2 separate regions of the Homo sapiens genome follow, and region 1 is linked to region 2. The links come from fine-mapping of genetic effects on gene expression. A gene starts in region 2. The other region holds a variant in brackets. All regions are shown on one strand. Distances are between the middles of the regions.

Evidence for each region. PIP is the estimated chance that this variant, and not a neighbour inherited with it, causes the effect. A credible set is the group of variants that fine-mapping cannot tell apart.
Region 1: its variant is the best candidate, but not a certain one, in a credible set for the expression of H3C6 in blood mononuclear cells (TOPMed, PIP 0.55).

What each region holds. Positions count from the first base shown.
Region 1 is chr6:26,179,512-26,184,890 of GRCh38, forward strand. H2BC6 (H2B clustered histone 6) reads left to right here and starts at 4,250. Exons shown (of 1, transcript NM_003523.3): 1 at 4,250-4,719. The coding sequence starts at 4,285. The coding sequence ends at 4,665. RefSeq lists enhancers at 3,284-4,013, 3,873-4,062, 4,513-4,572. The variant G/A (reference allele first, on the strand shown) is at 3,133.
Region 2 is chr6:26,222,098-26,227,476 of GRCh38, forward strand. H3C6 (H3 clustered histone 6) reads left to right here and starts at 3,038. Exons shown (of 1, transcript NM_003532.3): 1 at 3,038-3,519. The coding sequence starts at 3,058. The coding sequence ends at 3,468. RefSeq lists enhancers at 3,048-3,664, 3,665-4,280.

The DNA of each region.
Region 1 (5,379 bases), 43 kb before region 2:
GTAAACCAGTGTTACTATATATTTAGCTATTTAAAATAATGAAATGATGGTACTGGAGTAACATATATGAACATGAATGAATCTCAAAAATATTGGTTTGGATAAAAAACATCATAAAATTATATACAGCTTGTGATTCCATTTATGTGAAGATAAAAATAGGCAAAATGAAATGACTTACAATTTATGGATCCATTCTTAGATATTTAAACTAAGAAAAACCAAAAAACAAGCAAAAACAAAAATAAGATTGATAAAGACAAAATGTAGGGCCATGCTTGGTGTCTGACACTTATAATTTCAGTGACTGGGGAGGCTAAGATGGGAGGATGCCTGGGCAATATAGTGAGATCCCCTTCTCTAAAAAAAAATGTTTTTTTTTTTTCTTGAGACAGGGTCTCACTCTGTCTCCCAGGTAGGAGTGCAGAAGCACACAATCTTGGCTCACTGCAACCTCCACCTCCTGGGTTCAAGCAATTCTCCTTCCTCAACCTCCCAAGTGGCTGGGATTGCAGGCATGTGTCACCACGCTGGGCTAATCTTGCTATTTTTAGTAGAGACAGGGTATCACCATATTTGCTAGGCTGTTCTCAAACTCCTGGCCTCAAGCGATCCACCCGCCTTGGCCTCCCAAAGTGCTGCGATTATAGGCGTGAGCCAACGTGTCTGGCCCAAAAAATTTTTAAATAAAAAACATATATATAGGAGAGTTATACAAGGACTGGTTAATTACTAATGACATTCTAGTTTTTTGTTTTTTTTTTTTTTTTGAGACATAGCCTCACTCTGTGGCCCAGGCTGGAGTCCAATGGCACAATCTCAGCTCAATGCAGCTTCCATCTCCCAGGTTCAAGCGATTCTCCCTACCTCAGCCAACCAAGTAGCTGGATTATAGATGTGTGCCACCATGCCCAGCTAATTTTTGTATTTTTAATAGGAACAGGGTTTCACCATGTTGATCAGGCTGGTCTCGAACTCCTGACCTCAGATGATCCACCCGCATTGGCCTCCCAAAGTGCTGGGAATTATAGGCATGAGCCACTGCGCCCAGCCCAACATTCTAGTTCTTAAACTGCCCTTTATTTTGATGATGTATTTGTGTACTCTGTGAAAAGTGAGATATACTGTTCATAAGATTGTGTGAGTGATCGCTGTTCGCCTAGCTCAAAGTTCTTCCTGTCTCTCCCACGGAATTGGGGAGAGTTATATACAGGGCCTACTTAATTACTAATGACATTTTAGTTCTTAAACTGGGTTTTTAAGTACCAACCATTTGTTTTACAATTCTTGTTTATGTTGCATATACCCTTTTGTGCAGATATAATATTTACTATAAAAATGTTTAAAACTCTCCTGAGATCTCAATCAGAGACAGGAAACCTCAATGCCACTCTACAGTTTTTGTCATTTTTTAAATTTCCCCTATCTTTTTCTTACTTATGTGCCACATCACCATTTTTATTCATATAGATATAAAAGTGCAGAAATTTTAGTCTTTAGCAGGAATTTCAAAAATCACAAATGGCAATGTTACCTGCCTCATTAAAATCATTTAAGGGTCTCAATCCAATCTTGTCAGTTGAATATCTGATATGTGTAGTTTGGATGTAGTTAAGGGCCTTCATCTGCACTTTTCTTTCTGTTTCTTCTTGCAGTTGCAGATTGTATCACTGGACTCCTCTCCCTCTGGTTTTCTTTGTGTATGTTCATTTTGTGTCTCTCCAACGTATTAGTTCATCCTCTTTAGGTGAATTTCTTTCTTTTTATCCTACTCTTCACGTCTGTCTCTCTTTCCATTGTGTCTGTTTCTTTTTTCTCTCCCTCTGCCACTTTTCCCTTAATACGGTTTAAATTTTCTCTCATTTGTCTTTCTCCTTTTTCTCTACTGACTAGATATACCATCAGAGGTTTTTTTTTTCATTTCTAACAACCTCTTATAGTCATTAAAGAAATGCTTCATTTTCCATTCTTTTAACATAAGAAGAACAAGAAGCATTTTTCTCTTTTTGCAACACAGCCCACCAAGGTAGGTGAAGATGTTTTCTAACAGACTAGATCCAAGCCAGACTGCCTAAATCATCATTCTGGTTACACCTAGTATAAGCGATGGGGTTTGGGGCAGGATGCCGCAACTTGGGTACTCTAATTTCCCTTTCTGTTAAATGAGAACAAAAGTAATATCACATGTTTTTTTGTTTGTTTGTTTTGTTTTGTTTTTTGAGATGGAGTCTTGCTGTTGCTCTGTCACGTAGGCTGGAGTGCAATGGTGCGGTCTCGGCTCACTGCAACCTCGGCCTCCCGGGATCTCCTTCAGCCTCCCAAGTAGCTGAGACTACAGGCATGCGCCACCACGCCCGGCTAATTTTTGTATTTTTAGCAGCGACAGGGTTCCACTATATTGGCCAGGCTGGTCTCAAACTCCTGATCTCGGGATCCGCATGCCTCGGCCTCCCAAAGTGTTGGGATTACAGGCGTGAGACACCACGCCAGACCTTTTTTTTTTTTTCCTCTCTCCCTCTTTGAGACAGAGTCTCGCTCTGTTGCCCAGGCTGTAGTGCAGTGCCAATCTCGGCACACTGCAAGCTCCGCCTCCCAGGTTCACGCCATTCTCCTGCCTCAGTCTTCCGAGTAGCTGGGACTACAGGCGCTCACCACCACGCCCAGCTAATTTTTTGTATTTTTCGTAGAGACAGGGTTTCACCGTGTTAGCCAGGATGGTCTCGATCTCCTGACCTTGTGATCCGCCCGCCTCAGCCTCCCAAACTGCTGGGATTACAGGCGTGAGCCACCGCGCCCGGCCCTTTTTTTTTTTTTTTTTAAGAAGGAGTTTTGCTCTGGTTGCCCAGGCTGGAGTACAGCGGTGCAGTCTCAGCTCACTGCAACCCCCACCTCCCGTGTTCAAGCGATTCTCCTGCCTCAGCCTCCCAAGTAGTTGGGATGACAGGCGTGTGCCACCCTACTCAGCTAAGTTTTTGTATTTAGTAGAGACGGGGTTTCACCATGTTGGTCAGGCTGGTCTCGAACTCCTGCCCTCAGGTGATCCACCCGCCTCGGCCTCCCAAAGTGCTGGGATTACAGGCTTGCGCCACTGCGCCCGGCCCAAGATTTTTTGATTAAATAAATACAAATAAA[G/A]CACATTAGCTATTATTCTGAACACTGCTACATTAGCTACATTGAAAATTAAAAAAGATGTTAAACAGATTTTAAGGTTTTCTCGTCATCACTGAAGTGAGAAAAACAAATTATTTTGTGAAACAAAGATAAGACACAATAAATTCAGAGTACACTTTTGTTAGATGCTAACCCACAGAGCGGAATACTTTTTGCGCAGCACCTTCATTCCTGGAGACTTAGGGCCCGGGAAATGGGAATGGTGGCAGGAGAGGAGAAGGGCTAGGGGGCTGGGGAGCGTGGGGTGAAGGAGTGGGGGCTTAAAAAGGACAGTCAAATTTAGGAAGAACAGTTTCTTAAACTGAAGTTAGCTAAGCAGCGGGCTTCAGCCAAAGATAATAATACTAACTTGAAAGTAAAGCTGTTTGTTAAATAGGCTTTCATTTTAATTTTTTAAAAAATATTTTCACTAGTTAGACGGAATATTTATTTCTGATCCTCGTTGTAGGGCTAAACTAGGTGTGACTTGCTTTTCCATTAAGGACTGTAGCCATTTTGGCTAAGAAAGTCTTTCCTGTCTTAGCTCTCTTCAAGAGATGCTATTTACTTTTTTGTTGTTGTTTTCTCCGGAGCTTTATTGCCTACCCTTTATTTTCACGATGTGTTTGTGCATTCTGTAAAAAGTGGGAAACACTGTTCTCCGGATTGTGTGGGTGATCGCCGGTCGCCTAGCTTGCCGTTCTTCAGGTATCTCCTGCTGCTCCAGAATCTACATCTGAATGTCAAGGCATAGCTTTTCCAGGAGCTTTTAAACCGACCTTTCAATTCGAAGACGTAACTGCGCCAGGAGCTTTGTCTCCCTGGCATATAAAAGCATAGAAGAGAGCAACTTCTGGTTTTTAAAATAAGTAAACTAATCTGAATTGTTTGCAATGGTAGGAACTTGTTATATAAAATGTTAATTAGGTGGCCCGTGCTCGAAAACTGCTCTCAGGATATGACCAATGGGAGAGTAGACCTAAGCTCCTTCATTTGCATGCAGACTTCACGACAAAATAACGAATCAGAGTTGGAGAAACTAAATCTTCATTTACATAACATTGTCTACAAATTCCGAGGATCAGGAGATGTAGATTTCATTTTCTTTCCTAACTGCAGAACAGCAAAGATAGCATGCCTGAGCCAGCGAAATCCGCTCCCGCCCCGAAGAAGGGCTCCAAGAAGGCCGTGACCAAGGCGCAGAAGAAGGACGGCAAGAAGCGCAAGCGCAGCCGCAAGGAGAGCTACTCCGTATACGTGTACAAGGTGCTGAAACAGGTCCACCCCGACACCGGCATCTCCTCTAAAGCCATGGGGATCATGAATTCCTTTGTCAACGACATCTTCGAGCGCATCGCCGGCGAGGCTTCCCGCCTGGCGCATTACAACAAGCGCTCGACCATCACCTCCAGGGAGATCCAGACGGCCGTGCGCCTGCTGCTTCCCGGGGAGCTGGCCAAGCACGCTGTGTCAGAGGGCACCAAGGCCGTTACCAAGTACACCAGCTCCAAGTAAACTTGTCCCTGCAACTGCCTTAGTAAACCCAAAGGCTCTTTTCAGAGCCACTCACCTTTTCACAATTGGAGCTATATACTGACATGTGAAGATACTAGAAACTCCTGCAGCTGAAATAGGCATGTTTTTAAAACTTAAAATGGCACTCACTGTCTGGGCTGGTGGCTTTATGAAACTCTGGTTTCCGTGTTTTATGAGGTATCACTCGATAGTACCTAAGAGGCAATAGTAATTTCATAGTTTTGCTCTACGAAGAGAAACTTCGTTTCTCAAGAGTCCTTAAAAATACGGGTTTTACCAAAGAAGCCCATATTATGGGGGGCTGGAGCGGGGGTGGGGAAGGAGGAGAGGAGACTGCTGCTTTCAAGTAGTTCTTAATGTTGAATTTGCTTTTTTCCTTTCCTCAATTACTTCAAAAAGGTCTTAATTTGGATTTTTATTTTAGGTTCTAAAGGAAAAAATAAAACCCTCTTCCCTCTACCGCCTCACCTGTCTGGTTTCACCAATTAGACTTGAACAATTCTCAGTGTGCAACCACACTCGCGCTCGCACACAAACACATACACACATTGTTCATTGATCGACAATCCCCATCTCATCTTTATCATGTTCTTAGAGAAGTTGGGTCTCCATTGTTAAGGATTCTCCTAATCACAAAAACTGACTATATACCTATCCCCAATCCAATCATTAATAAGGGGCATGTGATCTTTA
Region 2 (5,379 bases):
TCTGCCTCAAAAAAAAAATAAAAATAAAAAAGAATAATGCAAGCCACATATGTAATTTTGAATTTTCCAGTAAGCACATTTTAAAAATTAATAAGCAGGTAAAAGAATTTTAATAATTATTGTATTTAAAACAAAATACAAAATAATTATTTCAAAATATAGTCAATATAAAAACATTATTAATGCAATATTTCACATTCTTTTTTAAATCTTAAGTCTTCTAAATATGAGGGACATCCTATTCAATTTGATATTACATTTTTGTTGGAAATAAATGGAATTTCATTTTGATTTCATAAATTTCAGTGCTGAAAAATAAAATTCATATATCTGATTGTTTAAAACATATCTAACATTTTCCAATAACTGAAGTATCAGCCTTTGAATTAAAATAATGAAAAGTAAAATAAAAATTCAGGCCGGGCACAGTGGCTCACGGCTATAATCCCAGCACTTTGGGAGGCCGAGGTGGATGGATTACTTAAGGTCAGGAAATCGAGACCAGCCTAGCCAACATGATGAAACCCCGTTTCTACTAAAAATACCTCCACCCCACCCCCCCCAAAAAAATAAGCCGGGCATGGTGACAAGCACCTGTAACTACAGCTACTCTGGAGACTGAGGCAGGAGAATCGCTTAAACTCGGGAGGTGGAGCTAACAGTGAGCTGAGATCACCCCACTGCACTCCATCCTGAGTGACAGAGCAAGACTCCTTCTCAAAAAAAAAAGAAAGTCAGTCCTCAGCAGCAACAACCACATTTCAAATGCTCAGTAGCCACAACTGGTTTCTGACTGTTTTATCACATAACACAGATCCTATGGGAAATTGTGTTCAGGTATGGAAATAGTGATGGAAATTACTGATTAATACAAGTGAGCTGCTAAGTTCTTATGTAATCATGTAAATTTTGCACTGACTTCTAAAATAAAGCTTTACACATATTTAGAGATGAGGATTATGAAAGGAACTGAAGGTAGGTTCCAATGGCAAAACACCGGATTGACAGATTTAAGAACACTGGGGAGGAAATAGAACTATGGGGCATAAAGATGGAATTTCCTTAATGGTTCTCACTGACTGTGACCTAAAGTTTATCTTTTGATTTTGGAAACATTTTTTAGATGTAGATATTAACATTCTAATAATAGAAATGAAAAAACTAAAATGAAAATGAGAAAACAGAAGATAATATCAATAAACAGGTCTTGGGCCTCAGAAGATGAGATGTAGGGAGTGTGGAGAGGAAAAGCACAGGGGGTGCATAGCTCTCATTAACAAACGGCCCAGCCCACAAATACGTAATCATATTATACAAAAGGATTTCAGTTCTTCCCTTGCTTCCTATGAAACAATTTTGCCAACATACCTAACCGTTTTACCGTGATTTAAAGTGTACAGAATTTTCTTTTTCTGAAAAGGAGAGAAGCAAGGGACTCATATATATTTCAGATGTGAGATTGAAACGCACGACAATGTGTAATTTCAGTCAAGACTTGCCCACGAGTCCTAAGATAATTCAAATTTGCAAAATAGACACTAACTTGAAAGGTGCAATTGTATCAATCCTGTGGTTAGCAGAATTTTGATGAATGCCCTAAAATAGGGCAGGTTTAACAGAATTCAGGGAATGAGCAGGAATGCACAAAGCATCCTTTGTCTCCTCTCCACTCCAGCTTGCAGACATCCGCGGGCATTTGCGGGCAGTGATAAATTTGGTTTAGCCGTTTCCCCTCCCTGGAGGACGGGGGCTCCAGCATATTCATGATGTCAATCGCCTTGGACTACATGCCAGCGTCATTGCGAACCTGCTACACTTTACAAAATAGCTTTCCAATGAGAAAGAAAACCTACTGGGAAAGAAAAACAAAAAGAAACTAGACCTTGCAACGGGCACGCACGCGCACTATCCCTCTCTGAAATATTTATAGTACGCTTACACAAACGCGAACTTGTAAATCAAAACTCTGCCTGAACCAAAGTAGCCAATAGATTAAAAGTATGTAAATTAGGAATTCCCAAACTGCTCTTTTTATTGGCTAGGAAAAGAACACCTTACAGGGAATCCGATAGGTTAATTCACAATAGTGTTAGGCTGTAATGTCATTCTTTAAGAATCTTTTCCAGTAAACATTTGTTACTTTTTCAAAGTAATTGGGAGCTGTTGAGTGTGGAAGCGAAAACCAAGTTAAGAAGTCCTGTTATTTGGGTGAGTCCAGTTCCTATAAAAGTTCTGTTGGATGTGTCTTAAATTGTTCGGTGCACCTCAGCTCTCTCCCGCAGGGATCCGGAGAAACTGCGCCATTGTTGTCTTACAGAGAAACAACCTTCTAACACTCTCTTCGCCGCCATCTTTTTCAAGATTTTAAATTGAAAATACTTTTTTTGACGGCTCTTGCCATTATGTCTGGACGTTTTAATTTCAACAAAACGAAATAATAGTGTTAAGTTCTTTGAGTCAAACCCGATATTACAGAGGTAGGGATTCCAGGATATTAGAATTTTACTATAACACAAATGAAACACAAAGTTCCTTATGCTTAACAGTGTATCTTAGAAAACCTTGTTTGAGTGAATTAGCCTTGTACTCTATAATGAAACGAGGAATCATTGAGAGATACTTAGGCAACGGATTTTAAATGAGTGAATAAGGAAGGGAAAAACTTCAGGAAAATGCAGAAAAAAGCAGCGGAGATTTTGGAAAAAAAATTCTAAAGCACTTTCTAACGCAAACACATTCGATTTTTTATAGCTAAACAGGATAACAGATCAGTCTATTAAGTTAAATGATCAATGTCTTTGCAGGTCATGGTCTACGTGAAACATCAAAGAAACCTGTAACGGAAAACGACTTGTTTGAAAGAGCCAGTTCTCTATCCAAATTTACCAATCAGAATCTTGCACTGAAAAAATAAACCAATCGTGAATCTCTACGGCCACTTCCGGAATTTAGCAACCGATCACTAACAGGGATCGTCCACAATCCAATCAGAGTGATTCTGTTCCTATATAGAGGGGCAAACCAATCTTCCTAACTCATTTACTTTGCAGATGAACTATGGCGCGTACTAAGCAGACGGCTCGTAAATCCACAGGCGGTAAAGCACCGCGCAAACAGCTGGCCACTAAGGCAGCTCGCAAGAGCGCTCCGGCCACGGGCGGCGTGAAGAAGCCCCATCGCTACCGCCCTGGCACCGTGGCTCTGCGCGAGATCCGTCGCTACCAGAAGTCTACCGAGCTTCTAATCCGGAAGCTGCCGTTTCAGCGCCTGGTGCGAGAAATAGCTCAGGACTTCAAGACCGACCTGCGCTTCCAGAGTTCCGCGGTGATGGCGCTGCAGGAGGCCTGCGAGGCCTACTTGGTGGGGCTTTTCGAGGACACCAACCTGTGCGCTATTCATGCCAAACGCGTGACCATCATGCCTAAAGACATCCAGCTTGCCCGCCGCATTCGTGGGGAGAGGGCGTGAATTGTTTTGAGTACAAACCTTAAATCCAAAGGCTCTTCTCAGAGCCAACCACTTTGTCCGTGAAAAGGGCTGTAATCCTTTGAGACGCATTAGACCACTAAACTGCACTGATCCAAATAGACATTTGAAATAGTGGCATTCAGTTCCCTCGATGCTTCATTTAAATTTCCAAATTTAAGCGCTCCCTCAGGTTTTCGCCTAGGGCTGGGCCTCCCTACGCTGTTCTCCATTGGTTTAGCTGGCTTTGTTTTGCTGTTCAGGCCCTCTGCTGCTTTCTTGTACATTGTTCTCGTTTTCTAAACTCCTGGCCACTTAATTGTACCCTGCTTAACCCATCCTCTTGTTTTCTGGCTCAACGCTCTTTCATGTGGTGGCCTGCATTTTAGGTCTTAACTGCATAGGCTTTCAACGCCTTGGTTTTGCCTTTCCTTGATGTTTATTTGACCTTGCCCGAGGGGCCAGCGCTTTTGATCTGCATCAGGCTGCCTTACTCCACTAGTGTTTTGAGACCCAGCTACTTGCCGGCGACGGTCGGTGCCTTGGGTGCGGTCAACGTTACTCTCTGTGCGCCTGATACTGGTCTAAGGCTAAGGTTATTAGCTGGAACACCTAGACCCGTGGCACTAACACACAGCTCTTGCAGACTTGACAGCCTTGCATAGGTTCTAAACTGCAGGAGTCAAAGCAACGAAGGTGCAGATGGGTGTGTCTCAAACCTGAGTGCGAAAGGAAAATGCAGAAATCATGAGCCTTTTCAACTTTCCAGTTGATATCTTTTGTTTGCTTTTTTCTTTTCTTATTTATTTATTTATTTATTTATTTATTTATTTATTTATTTATTTTGAGACGGAGTTTCGCCCTTGTTGCCCAGGCTGGAGTGCATTGGCGCGATCTCGGCTCACCGCAACCTCCGCCTCCCGGGTTCAAGCGATTCTCCTGCCTCAGCCTTCCGAGTAGCTGGGATTACAGGCATGAGCCACCTCGCCCGGCCTTCCGGCTGATATCTTAAAAGAACTTTTCAACTTTAGTAAATACCCTGTCTTAATCAAATCTCATTAAAAGTACCCCATATTTATCAACAAAACATGAAAATCCTTGGACGGCTTCAAAGTTCTTACAGAAAATATTCTGCCTTTCCTTTCCATACAAAGGCACAGCTTCGAAACTGGTAGGTGAAGGGAAGGAAAATAAGGAATTCTGTTACGAAATCATACAGGCTGTTATTTGGAAATACAGAAGGGTGTATGTACTATATGGGATACTGCATGCTATTTGGAAGAATTTTGTTTATTTAAACATTTCAGCAAATTCCTCAGTTTTGATATGGGGTGCAGTATTTTTAACTCATTGAGAAATTTCTACTAACTTTTTTGAATGTGCTCTTTTCCCACTAGTTGCACTAAGGAAAGAGGTTAGTCATGTGGTAAAATTAATAGTGACAAAGCTGTAAATAGCTCTGCAGGCCAAGGTAGCCATAGTAAGAAGTCCTGGAGATTTATGGAAGAAATTTTTGTTCATGGAAGCCTGTCAGACATGAAGATGTGGGTCTTGTGAATTGGAGATTCAGTGCGTGAGGAAAACAGCCTAACTATCCATAATTAAGGTAACTACTGTCAGATATTTGTAACATAGTGAACATCCTATTATGCTAGATAGAAGCATTCTCTATTTGAATGTTGTTTCCTGTATCCTGTACTTTCTTTAAGATTCTAGCTCAACAAGTTTTAACCTGTATTTCTCTTACAGCTACTGGAATTCAGTACGTGAGGACTTGGACTTGGTGGGCACAGAATGCATCTTTTTATATCATTAAATCCACCAGAACATCTAGCATGGTCATTTGCCTAAAACAAAGCCTCTGGAAATTTAGTCAAGTTGAGATGTAAAATAAAAGATTACTGAACAGAATTT